Regions from separate parts of the Homo sapiens genome. Here region 1 is linked to region 2. The links come from fine-mapping of genetic effects on gene expression. A gene starts in region 2. The other region holds a variant in brackets. All regions are shown on one strand. Distances are between the middles of the regions. Region 1 has its middle 21 kb from the start of HTT. Region 2 holds the start of SLC75A1 (solute carrier family 75 member 1).

Region 1 (4,215 bases), 120 kb before region 2:
TTAAATTTAATTCGGCTGAAGTTTTTCTTTTAACATGGTGTCAGAAGTGGGATCCAAAGTAAAGCTTCTAATGACCCCTGGGGCACTGAGTGAACAAGTAAGGTACCTGCTGGACACACTTGTGTCCATTGATTTCTCAGAGCAGCTGGGGATCATGGATAAGTCCTCTCTTGGATTTTGGAGATCCACAGTTTGTGTTTCGAGCTCTCTGAGTTTTCTTTGTGCAAATTTCTGATCCAAACTGGGTTTGGAAGTCGCCAAAGAAAATGGATGGGTCCAGGAATAGATTTGATACGGTAATTAACCGGCCTGGATCCAGTTAGAGGCCTCTTACATCTGACTGGGTCTGAAAGAAACTGGTAGAAAATGGTAATATTGCAGGGGGTGTAAAATTTGGCTTTTGAAAATTCGTGGGGATGTTTGTGTTCTACCCCTTTGTTTCATTTTTCTTGCACACTTAGGTAGGAAAAAATCATTGGCTAAATTAATCAAGGGAAGCTGAGCGTAAAGCCAATATTCAGGTAAAAATGGGTTCCTTAATTTCCGGAAAACTGGGTTCCTTCTGGCTTACACGTTAGGCATGGAAAGTGGTGAAGTCTTACAGAAATGGTGAAATCTTACTAAAGATGACTACAGTGGAACATTCTGAATGAACAACAGTGCACTGACATGCATTTAAAAATGAAGGCTCCCAAAAATCAAATCTGCTAACCTTTTAGCTTAGTTACTATCGCAATCCAAAGGAGATAGGCTGCAGCACAAATTGGCTGACTTTGAATAAGTAATGGGGTACATTTTACCTAAGTAAAGCATGGGATTGGGTTAGAGGCCCTCCCCTCAGTAAAGTCCCTCTGGGTTAAAAATGGGTTAAAGATGACAGGGCCCAACCCAGGGCTAGTTTGAGACTTTTTTTTTTTTTAGACGGAGTCTCGCTGTGTTGCCCAGGCTGGAGTGCAGTGGCGCCATCACAGCTCACTGCAAGCTCTGCCTCCTGGGTTCATGCCATTCTACTGCCTCAGCCTCCTGAGTAGCTGGGACTACAGGCGCCCGCCACCACGCCCGGATGGTCTCGATCTCCTGACCTCGTGATCTACCTGCCTCAGCCTCCCAAAGTGATGGGATTACAGGTGTGAGCCACCACACCTGGCCAAGCCCTTACAATTTTTGTGAAAGAGCAGAACAGTGCTTTAAGAAAACCCTGTTGGCCAGGCGTGGTGACTCATGCCTGTAATCCTAGCACTTTGGGAGGTGGAGGCGGGCAGATCACGAGGTCAGGAGTTCAAGACCAGCCTGGCCAATATGGTGAAACCCCGTCTCTACTAAAAATACAAACATTAGCCAGGCGTGCTGGCAAGTGCCTATAATCACAGCTACTCCAGAGGCTGAGGCAGGAGAATCGCTTAAACCCAGGGGGCAGAGGTTGCAGTGAGCCAAGAGTGCACCACTGCACTCCAGCCTGGGTGACAGAGCGAGACTCCATCTCAAAAAAAAAAAATAGAAAGAAAAGAAAACCCTGTTGTGCTTTTACTTCAATGTTCAATTTCTGGAAAAAATGAATAATACTCCTTTAAATTTAGTCAATATGTTCACACACAGAATTTCTTTTACAAGATTAATTTTTACAAACCTACAATTTGCTCAAACTTTTAGCTTTATCTTATCTAACTTAAAAACCCTTTAACCCTCTAAACTAGGCAAAAATTTACATTCCCATGCCTTCTTATAATCTTTTACCAAAAACACATTTCACTCTCCTCACACACCTTGCATGTAAAACTATTTTTTTAGTAGTTTCAATTACATGTTATAATGGTAACTCTTAGCATCTTTTACTTTTGGTGCATGAATTTCACAAATCCTTTAACAACTTACACAGGCCATCTATGGCATGGTTGGACTTTCTCACTTGTCCTAAACACTCCTCTTTTTAAACACCCCTCTTTTTAAACAACCAGTTATTTTACTTTAGGGCAAGAATTTACCATACGAGATCCTTTCTTATATAAAATTTATTTTCTTTGTAATCTTCTTTGCCTAGCTGGGGGCATGGCTAATTCCACATGTCCGCAGGCCTTATCTAGAATCTAATGCTCCAAAATAATTTGAACAATTTAGAAAAGTCAAAGCAGTTTATGACCTTAAAAAATTTAGCAAACCTGGCTGGGTGCAGTGGCTCACACCTGTAATCCCAGCACTTTGGGAGGCGGAGGCGGGGGGATCATGAGGTCAGGAGTTCAAGACCAGCCTGGCCAACATGGTGAAACCTCATCTCTACTAAAAATACAAAAATTAGCTGGGCATGGTGGCATATGCCTATAATCCAAGCTACTCGGGAGGCTGAGGCAGGAGAATTGCTTGAACCCCGAGAGGCAGACGTTGTAGTGAGCCTAGATCACGCCATTGGACTCCAGCCTGGGCAACAAGAGTGAAACTCCATCTCAAAAAAAAAAAAAAAAAAGAA[G/T]TTAGCAAACCTAATATCTAACCTGCCTAATTTAGGCCAAATGTCTTTATTTTCACCAGTAACCTTTAAAACTTTTTATTTCCCAAAGATTACTGAAGTTACATGCACTAAAAGGCATTAGAGTTTTTATTTTTCTTTCAAAATATTTGATTTAAGCACTCATTTTTCTTAAAGCCAATTAATTAGAGCTCTTTTATTTATTTTTATTTTTATTTTTATTTTGAGACAGAGTCTCACTCTGTCATCCAGACTTGGGTGCAGTGGCACAATCTTGGCTCAGGGCAACCTCCACCTCCTGAGTTCAAGTGATTCTCCTGCCTCAGCCTCCTGAGTAGCTGGGATTACCAGCATGCGCCACCACACCTGGCTAATTTTTGTATTTTTAGTGGAGACGGGGTTTCGCCTGGTTGGCCAGGCTGGTCTCGAACTCCTGACCTCAGGCGATCCACCCACCTCAGCCTCCCAAAGTGTTGGGATTATAGGCGTGAGCCAATGTGCCTGGCAATTAGAGCTCTTTTATATAAACATTAAACACACAACACATATATAACTACACAGACAGACAGAAGAAGATCCAATAGTTGTAAGATTTTTCATTTACCACTTTCTAAGTTTCTAAATTGGATTACTGGCTTTAGGATGGAGTCCTTGGAAGAACAGGACCAGGAAAGCATGCAGTTTCTAGGGCCTAATATAATAAGCAGGCACAGCTGGAAGGCAAAACGGATCTCCAAAAATTAAGGGTCTCTTTTTTTTTTTTGAGACGGAGTCTTGCTCTGTCACCAGGCTGGAGTGCAGTGGCACCATCTCAGTTCACTGCAACCTCCGCCTCCTGGGTTAAAGCGATTCTTCTGCCTCAGCCTCCCAAATAGCTGGGACTATAGGCGCATGCCGCCATGCCCGGCTAATTTTTTTTTATTTTTATTTTAGTAGAGGTGGGGTTTCACCATGTTGCCCAGGCTGGTCTCGAACTCCTGAGCTCAGGCAATCCACCCACCTCGGCCTCTCAAAGTGCTAGGATTACAGGCGTGAGCCACCATGCCCAGCCTGAGGTCTCGTTTTTATACCAGATCCTGGATCCCCCCCAAAAAAGAGGGAGTCAGCCCCATAACTGCCATTAGACATCCCTAAAGTATATTTCCTGCCTAGTTATTACACACCAAGTCTCTATGTGAAGTAATTTCTGATACCCCCAAGTAAAAAACAGTAGATAATCCAATGCAAAACAGAACAGAGCCTTAGATTTTGAAAGGAATCTATCTACTTCCAATTTCTGGGGTTTCATGAGTAAAACAGAGTTTTTTCCCAAAACGGGGTCTCTGGCACCTCCTGTTTTCCCAAGGAGTCCCAGGCTGTTAGAGCCAGAATATCTACTTTTAATTAAGCTGACTTTTAACCATTGCACTCTTTAATAAAAGTTCTTTTAAATTGCTTATTACCCAACTTTCATCAGGCCAAACAGCCAATATTCCTGCCTTTAAACTATTGAAAGTAACCTCCCAGGTGCTCTGAGAAAGGCAATTCAAGACAGTTTGTGGAGGGGGAGAAAATCAAAAAATGGCAAAGGTTACCCAAATATCAATTAGAAAGTACTCATTCCCTAAGCCAGGAATCAAACCCAGATCACCACTGAACTATAGCACTGGGCAGTCTCCATTGCCCTTCCCAGAAAGAGTCTAGAGTAGTTAATTTTCAGCTGGCAAAGCCTCGTAACTACTCAAGATAGATTGTAGAGCTAACTATGACATGAACCC
Region 2 (4,497 bases):
CAGGCTGCCCTGGTACGTGCCTGAAGCATCGCGGAGGTCACATCTAGCCACGGTGACCGTGGTGAGATGTAAGGATTAACCAGACTACGACTGGGGAGGTGAGGAAGGTGACAAGGACCCAGTTCCAGCTTCTAACGGGGTGTGGGATCTTTGAGCAAGGAAGAAGATGCTAGGGAGAATGAGTCTGGCTTTGTTCTTGTTGGGAGGTGTTCAAGCCATGGCTGGACCAGAGCATGAGCCATCCTCAGTGTGAGAGGCAGTTACTGCCGCGGTTGGGCTGCCTGGTAGGCCTGGAGCTCAAAATGAGTCAGTCTCTCTCTGGAAAGCGCAAGACAGAGACAGCGCTGGTGGCAGCTGGGCTGAAGCCAGCAGCTTGGAGATGAGGCTCAGGCCCTGACGGGGGAAATCTTACCCAGCCTCCCCAGATGGCTCAGAGACAGGTCTGGCAGGTGCACGGATCCACAAATCTAGAAGAGTCTGGGGTTGTCACATCCACCAACTAGGCTGGCTGTCTATATACACTTTGTCACTGTGTAGGCCCAGGATTTCACCCATCTACAAATTTTCTCTGCCACACGGCTACTGCCACTTTAATTCACCAAGCCAAGCCTTTGCACTCAGGACCCTGGCCCAACCCTCTTTGGCCAAGCAAAGAGGAAACGAGAACAGGACAGAAAAAAAAGTGGGACCGGACCAGGCACCTGGCTGTCCATTGAGGCCTTGCTATGCGATCCAGGACGGAAGGTGCCGGCAGCAAGCTCATACACTCTAGCTGCGTGTCATGTCATTGAAGAGGGCGCGTGATCCAGCTGGAAGGGTGGATAAAAGTGTAACTGCCCAGTGGGTTCACCTTCCCTGTTACCTAGACAGCCAATTTATCAAGAAAGGGCATTTGCAACAGAGAAAAGGTAATTCACGCAGAGCTAGCTGTGTGGGAGACTGGAGTTTTATTATTACTCGGTCTCCCTGAGCATCTGGGGTTTGGAGTTTTTAAAGATAAGCTGGTGGGTGGGGGGCAGCCAGTGAGTCAGAAGTACCCATTGGTCAGGTCAGAGATGAAATCACAGGGAGTCGAAGCTGTTTTCGCACTGAGTCAGTTCCTGGGTGCCACAACATCAGATGAGCCTGGGTGGTGCCAGGTGACCCACCAAGTGCTGATCTTAGGCTTTACGATGGTGATGTTATCGCCAGGAGCAGTTTGGGGAGGGTCAGAATCCTGTAGCCTCCCGCTGCGTGACTCTTCAACCGTAGTTTCTAATCTTGTGGCTAATCTGTTGGTCCCACAAAAGCAGGCTAATCCCCAGGAAAGGTTTCCTTTGGGAAAGGGCTGTTATCATCTTTGTTTTAAACTAAGTTCCTCCCACAGTTCAACCTGCGTGCAGCAGTAAACAAGGAGGGCATGGAGGTTAGAAGCAAAATGGAGCTGGTTATCTCACTGTCGGCAAATTTTGCAATGGCAGTTTCATAGAGATGCCTGTCCTCTGGGAAAAAAGCTAATAACAGGTTGTCTTTTTGGCTGCAGGTGGAAAACTGCATCTATTAGGAAGAGGTGGGGCTTTGTTCTTACCCACAATTGGAAGTTCTCTATGGAGTAAAGGCGGTATGTGTGCCACCTGATTCCTTTCCCCATGTGTATCTGGTTAGGGTCGGCCACGTGAGATCCGCAAGCATTTTAGAAGGTGGGAGGGGAGGTGGGAGCTGGCTACAGGCCAGGCGTTGGCGTGGTTCCGTGAGTGTGCTCCAGCCAGGCCCAAAGCTTCTCCTGCCCAGAGGGACCGTTTCCTCCAGCGTGGGTCGGGTGCTTCTGCGCCCGGAAAGAGCGCCAGCTCCTCCTTCGGGTGACCCAGGGAGCGGGGCTGCAGGCAAAGGCGCAGGCGGCCAAAAAGGTGCCAACCGGGTCCTGTGGCTTTCAGTTGTCTCTGCCCACCCAATTCACACCATCTTTCCCCCTCAGCCGCCTGTCCTGGGACTTCAGGCTCAGCACCAAACGCAGCAAAAGTAGGTGCACAGAGAGCGGGGTCAGCTCACGCAGCCCGAGCAGAATGGCTGTGCTGCCGCCCCAGGCCCGCGGCCACCGCTGTGTGTGTGGCAGGAGTCAGCCCCCCAGCGTGGGGCCCCGAAGCCCGCGGTCCTTCCACGGGGAGGGCCAGGCCCGCAGGGCGCAGACGATGGGGGACAGGCTGCGCCAGCGCTCGCCTGAGGCCCCGCACACAAACCTCAGGCCCATGGGTCCGCTCCGCGGGGCAGGCGTCGTGGGCCCAAGGAGGCCAGGCCAGGAGTCTCGGCCTCGGGGTTACGCGGCGGCGGGCAGCTCTTCCGCTCCGCTCAGGGTGCTGCTAACCCACAGCCAAGCAGCGACCCGCAGGACCGGCGAGAACCCCGCCACTGACTCCGGCCGGAAGAGAACGTGCAGAGATGTACGTCACTTCCGGGGCGTGGCGTGGCCGGGCGTGGCCGTCCCGCCCCTGGCGGCGTGCCTGGTGCCCTGTTCCGCGTCTGTGCGACCGTCCGTCCCGAGCGCGCAGCCGCGGCAGGTGCGGGGCGGGACCGGGGGCGCCCGGGGTGGGGGGCGTAGGGGGCGCTCGGGTTGGGGGTGGGACAGGGGACGCGCGGGGTGGGGGAGGAGACGGGACCCGGGGTACGCGGGGGTGGGGCGGGTGAGAGGTGCGCAGGGTAGGGGAGTAGGGGGCGCGCGGGGTGTGGGGCTGGACCAGGGGCGCGCGGGGTGGGGGCGGTGGGAGGCGCGCGGCGTGGGGGTTAGAGGGCGCGCAGGGTGGGGGACGGGACCGGGGACGCGCAGGGTGGGGGGCGGGACCGGGGGCGCGCGGGGTGGGGGCGGGACCGGGACGCACGCGGGATGGCGGAGTGGGAGGCGCGCGGGGTTGGGGGTGCTCCTGCGTCCGGTGTGCACCCCATGGCCCCCGCCAGGGAGACCGAGTCCGGGCCAGGGGCCGGAATCGCGGGGCGCGGGCCGGGGCTGGGGTTGGGGTTGGGATCGGGATCGGGATCGGGATCGGGATCCGGGTTCCCCGCGGCTTCAAGTTTTCTCTCGCTGTTACGAGGGCGTGGGAGGCGCGGCCGTGGGGTGGGGTGGGGCCAGGTCCGCGATGTGCTCACCCTGGTCTCTCAGGACCGTTGCCTTTGCGGCTATTTTTTGTGCAATCCCCGAAGCCTGCGTTTCCTGCTGCCTGGGTTCGGGGCGGGGGCATCGCGCAGGCCAGAACGGCCCCTGCGTCCGTAGGCCAGAGCCCCTGCCATCAGCCCCTTTAGGGTGCTCGCCGGCTGTCGGGTGTGGGGGTATGCCAGGCCCCGGAGGACTCGGCTTCCCCGCTAACCCGACCCGCCGCACCCCACCCAGGCCAGGTCAGAGCAGCCCACCATGGGATGGGGAGGGGGTGGAGGCTGCACCCCGCGCCCACCCATCCACCAGCAGCCGCCGGAGCGCCGCGTGGTCACCGTTGTCTTTCTCGGCCTCCTGCTGGACCTCCTGGCCTTCACGCTGCTGCTGCCCCTGCTGCCCGGGCTGTTGGAGAGCCACGGCCGTGCCCACGTGAGTCCTTGCCCTGCGGCCCACAGTGCCCCCTGCCCCCCAGGCCCATCAGACCTCCCCAGCCCTTATCGTGATTCCTCATCCCCTAGGACCCCCTCTATGGCTCCTGGCAGGGCGGGGTGGACTGGTTTGCCACCGCCATCGGGATGCCAGTGGAGAAGAGGTACAACAGTGTCCTGTTCGGAGGTATGGCTGGCTCTGTGCCCTTGGCGGGCTCTCTACGGTCCTATGTTTGGTGGACGTGGTCCAGCCCAGGCCCCTCCCCAATTCTCGGTCCTTGCCTTCCCACTCCCTGGGCTGGCATGTCTGGTGCCCTTGCCCACATGTCCTGGCTTCTGGGCATGATCCCTTGCCTCCGCGTGTCACGTTCAGATCCTTCCTCATCTCTCCATTGGGGCCCCCTCGGCTCAAGGGCCATGGCCTGTGAGTGTAGGGCCCAGCATGACTGGACCCTCAGGACGGGGCTGGACATTGGCCTTGAGGGCCCCAAGACCACAGCTCATGGTGCCAGGCAGCCCCATGATGGTGACATCTGTCTCTCAGGTCTCATTGGCTCGGCATTCTCTGTCCTGCAGTTTCTGTGTGCGCCACTCACTGGGGCCACCTCTGACTGCTTGGGGAGGCGCCCGGTGATGCTGCTGTGCCTGGTATGTTCCTGGGCCTGGGTGCCCATGGGGAAGCCTCCTCCCACCCAGCCAGTAGCCCCATGGGGTTAGGTGGGGAGAGGGAGGTGGCTGTGGGCCCCTCATGGCCACTGGTTGGCCCTCATCGCATCCTGGAGGGGGTTCTCGGGGGACCAGTGGCTCCTGTTCCAGAGCCAGGCTTTCAAGGAGCTGCTCCTGGCCCCTAGGAAGGCACTGAGAACGCAAGTGGCCCTCAGATGCTTCGAAATAGGGCAGGGTTGAGGGGTGTTGTCTGGGTTGCCAAGCCCTACTCTGAGCCACTCC

Evidence for each region.
Region 1: its variant is fine-mapped to the expression of SLC75A1 in whole blood (TOPMed, PIP above 0.99).

What each region holds. Positions count from the first base shown.
Region 1 is chr4:3,052,001-3,056,215 of GRCh38, reverse strand. It overlaps HTT-AS. Among named protein-coding and RNA genes, the nearest start is that of HTT, 21 kb to the left of the region's middle. The variant G/T (reference allele first, on the strand shown) is at 2,462.
Region 2 is chr4:2,932,806-2,937,302 of GRCh38, reverse strand. It overlaps SLC75A1 (solute carrier family 75 member 1), which reads left to right and starts at 2,478. Exons shown (of 13, transcript NM_001146069.2): 1 at 2,478-2,534; 2 at 3,359-3,550; 3 at 3,640-3,736; 4 at 4,094-4,197. The coding sequence starts at 3,380. NOP14-AS1 (NOP14 antisense RNA 1) reads right to left here and starts at 1,757. Exons shown (of 4, transcript NR_015453.2): 1 at 1-1,757. RefSeq lists enhancers at 399-638, 441-1,640, 2,898-3,765, 3,858-3,987, 4,008-4,237 and silencers at 2,029-2,138, 2,299-2,608, 2,838-3,057.